Linked DNA regions of Homo sapiens: region 2 is linked to region 1. Evidence: fine-mapped expression QTL. A gene starts in region 1. The other region holds a variant in brackets. All regions are shown on one strand. Distances are between the middles of the regions.

The links. PIP is the estimated chance that this variant, and not a neighbour inherited with it, causes the effect.
Region 2: its variant is fine-mapped to the expression of GRSF1 in whole blood (INTERVAL, PIP 0.94).

What each region holds. Positions count from the first base shown.
Region 1 is chr4:70,838,677-70,841,590 of GRCh38, reverse strand. GRSF1 (G-rich RNA sequence binding factor 1) reads left to right here and starts at 1,701. Exons shown (of 10, transcript NM_002092.4): 1 at 1,701-2,120. The coding sequence starts at 1,764. LOC124900710 (a long non-coding RNA gene) reads right to left here and starts at 2,599. Exons shown (of 3, transcript XR_007058131.1): 1 at 2,446-2,599. RefSeq lists silencers at 1,434-1,683, 1,744-2,293 and enhancers at 1,690-2,343, 2,344-2,914.
Region 2 is chr4:70,731,902-70,734,815 of GRCh38, reverse strand. The region is part of intron 1 of RUFY3 (RUN and FYVE domain containing 3); the gene reads right to left. Among named protein-coding and RNA genes, the nearest start is that of RUFY3, 11 kb to the right of the region's middle. The variant T/C (reference allele first, on the strand shown) is at 1,675.

The DNA of each region.
Region 1 (2,914 bases):
AAGACTGAAAAGTGTTGACAATTTATGAAGTTCTGGAAATTCATTCTGCTCTTCTGTTTGACATTTTCCACAGTAAGGAGTTTTTAAAAATACTAGCTTTCTCTTATTTTTTACTCTAACAACTTCCTTTTGCTTGTCTTTGACAAGTCCTGGCTCAGGAGGAGAAAAGCTGCACAACCAGTCTTTGTGTATGTGTGTGCAAATCTCTGTGTGTTCACTTGTGAATACAGTTTCATTAGGGGAGGGTTCACCTTTGTTATGTATTATCAGTACATAATAAATATATATGTTTTCTTTTATTTTTTTAGAGACAGGGTTTCACTCTGTCACCCAGGCTGGAGTTCAGTGGTGGCAATCATAGCTTACCACAGCCTCTACCTTCTGGGCTGAAGCAATCGGCCTCCCAAGTAGCTGGGACTACAGGCCCACGCCATCACACCCAGCTTTATTTATTTTTTGTATAGACGGGGTCTCCCTATGTTGCCCAGGCTGGTCTGGAACTCTTGGGCTCCAGTGATCCTCTCACTTCAGCCTCCCAAAGCGCTGGGATTATAGGCATGAGCCACCACGCCAGGCCTATATTTCATTTTAAAACAACGAAGTTCTCCTTCCTCACATACCTCAAATTCGGGGGGTACCAAATCTCTGATATTATCCCAACGATTTTTTTATAACCAAGGTATCACAATTCCTTTCAGAAAGGGTTCTTTAGCCACTCACACCACGGGTTTCGGTGGCACAGCGCAGGGCAGCACAGACTTGTGCTACAGCTCTCGGCCCTACCCAGAGCAGGATGGCCCTAACCTAATTTTTTTGTTTGTTTGTTTGGAGATGGCGTCTCACTCTGTCGCCCAGGCTGCAGTGCGGTGGCACGATCTTGGCTCACTGCAACCTCCGCCTCCTGGGTTCAAGCGATTCTCCTGCCTCAGCCTCCTGAGTAGCTGGGATTACGGGCACCCGTCACCACACCCGGCTAATTTTTGTGTTTTTAGTAGAGACACAGTTTCACCATGTTGGCCAGGCTGGTCTTGAACTGCTGACCTCAGGTGATCCGCCCTACCTCGGCCTACTAAAGTGCTGGGATTACAGGCGGGAGCCACCGCGTCCGACCTAATTTTTTGTATTTTAGTAGAGACGGGATTTCACCGTGTTGCCTAGGTTGGTCTCGAACTCCTGACCTCAGGCAGTCCACCCGCCTCTGCCTGCCAAAGTGCTAGGATTACAAGAATGAGTCACTACGAATGAGTCACTGCGCCAGGCCCCTAGCCTCACTTACTTTGGGCCTCAGTTTCCACCGCCTGAAAAAAGAGCAGTTCGATTGCACCCACTTCCCCGGGCCCCGCCCAAACCATGGGCAGCCCCGCCCAAACCATGGGCAGCCCCGCCCAAACCATGGGCAGCCCCGCCCAAACCATGGGCAGCCCCGCCCAAACCATGGGCAGCCCCGCCCAAACCATGGGCAGCCCCGCCCAAACCATGGGCAGCCCCGCCCAAACCATGGGCAGCCCCGCCCAAACCATGGGCAGCCCCGCCCAAACCATGGGCAGCCCCGCCCAAACCATGGGCAGCCCCGCCCAAGGGCGGAGACTGGGCGGAGCGTCGCGCTCTCCTCCACCTCCTTCCGACTCTCGGAGGCCCCCCACCCAGTGCCCGCGGCGCATGTGCCAGGCACACCCCACCCCCAACCGGCCCTGGATTCCACTTCCGTTCCACCATCGCTGCTGGAGCAGCTGCCTTCAGGCCCTGCGCCGCCTCCGGAGTCCATGGCCGGCACGCGCTGGGTACTCGGGGCGCTGCTCCGGGGCTGCGGCTGTAACTGCAGCAGCTGCCGGCGCACCGGCGCCGCCTGCCTGCCCTTCTACTCCGCCGCTGGCTCTATCCCGTCGGGCGTCTCGGGCCGCCGCCGCCTGCTGCTGCTGCTCGGGGCCGCCGCGGCCGCTGCCTCCCAGACGCGTGGCCTCCAGACCGGGCCTGTGCCTCCCGGGAGGCTGGCGGGGCCTCCCGCTGTGGCCACCTCTGCCGCGGCCGCGGCCGCCGCGTCCTACTCTGCCCTCCGTGCCTCTCTGCTGCCGCAGTCGCTGGCGGCGGCGGCCGCCGTCCCGACGCGCAGCTACAGCCAGGTACGTGGGCGCCGTGAGGGACCTGGCGCGAGATCCCTCCCGGGCCGCGTGCACGCGCCCCCGCGCCCCTCCGTCCCTCCGTGTGCGCCTCGCGGGCACGCCCGGGGATCCGCGACACTCGCCGCACACCCGCCCCCGTCCACCCTGTGCTCCTATTGGGCCCTGGAACAAGGGAAGCTCTCCCAGGCGTCGGGTCTTCTGCTTGTTTTGTTCTCGCCTCGAGTCTCTGGTCGGTTGGGCAGTGTAAGTGTGGCTGGGGTGAATGTTGAGGCCTTGTTCCCCGCCTGGCCCATGGTAGGTTTCGTGAGGCTGCTGACGCCCCCACCTCGCATCTTCTTGCTTTCCGCCGGCTGGTTGTGAAGTTGCGAGGCCCGAGCCCGCCGGAGGGTTGGGAGTTTCCGTGCAGCCCGAGCGCTAGGCCTGGGCGGCCCTCGGCGCCTCTCGGTCGGCCGCTGCTGGGAAGGTGCGCGCACACAGTTGCGTGGGCTGGCTTGTAGGGAAGGAGCCTGTCCCCATCGCGCCGTTCCCTCTCCTGTCCCCAGGGAAAGACGAGCTGTCCCGGTTTACTGAAGGTCACCTCTGCAACTCCACTCATACAGAAGGTCTTTAAGGACTGTGTGTCGCCTCGTCTGGGAAAGCAGTTTGGAGATTTAGCTGTTGGGGGGAGGGGGTGAATGGGAGGGAGCGTTGAGGGTTGAGGACACAACTTGGGGTCCCAGGAATGAATTTGCAATGTTTTCCTTTCCATTTTTTCTTTATTTTTTTAGAAAAGTCGGTGTGTAGTTAGATTGCAA
Region 2 (2,914 bases), 110 kb after region 1:
GCTAGTGCAAGAGTATCAAAGAGACAGGAAGAAACTGAAAGTAGTCCTGAAACAGGAAGGAAAAGCTGATTTTATGCAGAGTATGTTACGGTCAGATCAGAGGCAGCATGCACCTCTTTCGTGGTTTAGATAGGAACTGGCATACAAGTACAGAGCTACTGATATTTCTCACCCAGATTTAGAATTTTACAAAATCCTGGAAGCTAAGTGGGTAAAACTTACCTTGAAAGGGTGACTAGCCAGGTTATTTTCAGGGCAGAGCAACAAGAAGGGATGAACCGTGTCCAGAAAACTTTGTCCCATAGGCTTCTGAGACTGTATTAAAAGCTACAACCTTCTCACTTTGAGAAGTTCACTGAGACTGCCTTCTGAACACATAATCACAGCTCAGAGAACCTGACAGTGTAAATCTAAGGCTGACTGCACTGGTGGCAACAAATGTTTCTGTAATCTCACCAAGGGCCAATTACAAAAGGGGGTGTGCCACAGTGAAAGCAAAGAACAATAACACAATTCTGTGAAAAAGAGAATCCCAATGACTCAGGTTTTATTTTCCAAACACTTAGGAAAGGAATAAATCAAATGCTGTAAATGCTTCTAAATCTAGACACTGTGGGCCACCCCATACACTGCAAACAGCATTTAAACAGCTATGAAAACAGAGCATGCCAGTAAATAAACACAGGTCTGTGTTTGAAAAAAACCCAAAATAAAATGCCTAATAGAAATATTAAAAAATTATAATGGAAATTGAATCTAAAGCAGTAGCTCTGCTGTGAGGCAAATGTTCCCACTCACAGATGTGTGAAACTGTCATAGAAGGTACTGATATATAATACAAATATCTGTTGGATGGATGATTGCACACCCGTTAATTTTCATAAAGATTTTTCCTTTGAAAAAGGAACATTTGTTTTCATATTAGAGTAATATGTCCTCTTGTAGAATATTTGGGAGATATAAAGAAATATAAAGAATATTATAAAAATCACCCATAATTCCACTATCCAGAGATAATCAATTTTTATATTTTTGATACATTTCCTTTTACTTGTGTTTATGTATACCTATACTTAAAAAAATTGTGACTATAGTAAATATGCAGCTTAAGAGACAGCTTTTAAAGTTATATCCAAACATTACCCTACACATCAAATATTGTTCCACAATAATTTTTAGTGTAAGGTGTTCTACAACTTATTGAATAATTTTCCTCTTAGGCTATTTAAGTTGCTCTCAAGAGTGTGTTACAGGAAGTCAGAATACCGTGATAAATATACAGTACATACATAAACTTTTTGTTTGTATCTCTTATTATTTCCTTAGGATAGGTGTCTGGTACAATTACTGAGAATTAATTTTTTAAGGTCCTTGATTCACAATGATAAAATGATTTCTATAAAGGATGTACCAATGCACATTCCCACTAGCAGAGGCCCCAAGTCGTCCCATATTTTTATCAATACTACGTATTATTAAGATATATTTAAACAACAAATTATTACATTATTCTAAACTTATATTTTCCAAATAATATACAGTCGGTCCAGAATATGAGATAAACAATTAAAAATAAAGAAAACATTAGAAACCATAAATTAAATTGTGTGTAATGGAGGAAGACAAAATCCATTTTTCTTTCTTTCTTTCTCTCTCTCTCTCTCTCTCTCTCTC[T/C]CTCCCTCCCTCCCTCCCTCCCTCTCTCTCTCTCTCTCTCTCTCTCCTCTCTCTCTCTCTCTCTCTCTTTCTTTTGAAATGGAGTCTCACTCTGTTGCCCAGGTTAGAGTGCAGTGGCGCGATCTTGGCTCACTGCAACCTCCGCCTCCCGAGTTCAAGTGATTCTCCTGCCTCGGCCTCCCACATAGCTGGGATTACAGGCGCCCGCCACTGCACCTGGCTTTTTATTTTTTTTAATACTTTAAGTTCCGGAGTACATGTGCAAAACGTGCAGGTTTGTTACATAGGTATACATGTGCCATGTTGGTTTGCTGCACCCATCAACTCGTCATTTATATTAGGTATTTCTCCTAATGCTATCCCTCCCCCCAGCCCCCTACCCACCGACAGGTCCCCAGTGTGTGATGTTCCCTTCCCTGTATCCATGTGTTCTCATTGTTTGACTCCCACTTATGAGTGAGAACATGCGGTGTTTGGTTTTTTGTCCTTGTGATAGCTTGCTCAGAATGATGGTTTCCAGCTTCATCCATGTCCTTGCAAAGGACATGAACACATCCTGTTTTATGGCTGCATAGTATTCCATGGTGTATATGTGCCACATTTTCTTTATCCAGTGTATTATTGATGGATATCTGGGTTGGTTCCAAGTCTTTGCTACTATGAATAGTGCCGCAATAAACATACGTGTGCATGTGTCTTTACAGTAACATGCAAATCCTTTCTTTTAAAATGATTTTATGGAGTAATAGGGAATCACTGAGTTCACCAGAAGTTTGTTGGATATCTACGATAAATAGTACACAGTACCATGGGGCCTTCTGAAGAACGCCAAAGAAAAGGTTTGCCCTGAAGAACTTTCTATATAATTTCAGAAATAAGGAATCCCATGAATTAAATAACTGGGGAATGATTTCTAGCATATTCAAACAAATGTCCCAGATGCTAACCAGTGATTCAGGACATGAAAGGTGTGAGATCTGTTAGAGAAGGACTTGTAGATGAAGGGAGTCAGGGGTCCATTACCCTTCCTGATATAACACGGGCATGAAGAATCACAAGTCAGAATAGTAAAACAAAAAGAATAATCAGGATTTTACTGAAGCACAGTCTGACTGGAACAGGTAAGTATGTTGAAAAGGAGTTTGAAAAAACATTGAAAAAATCATCCAAAGAAGGGCATGAGAATGCTTGGCTAAAAGAATAATGATTACCTGTAGCTACTATTTCAAACAATCCATAA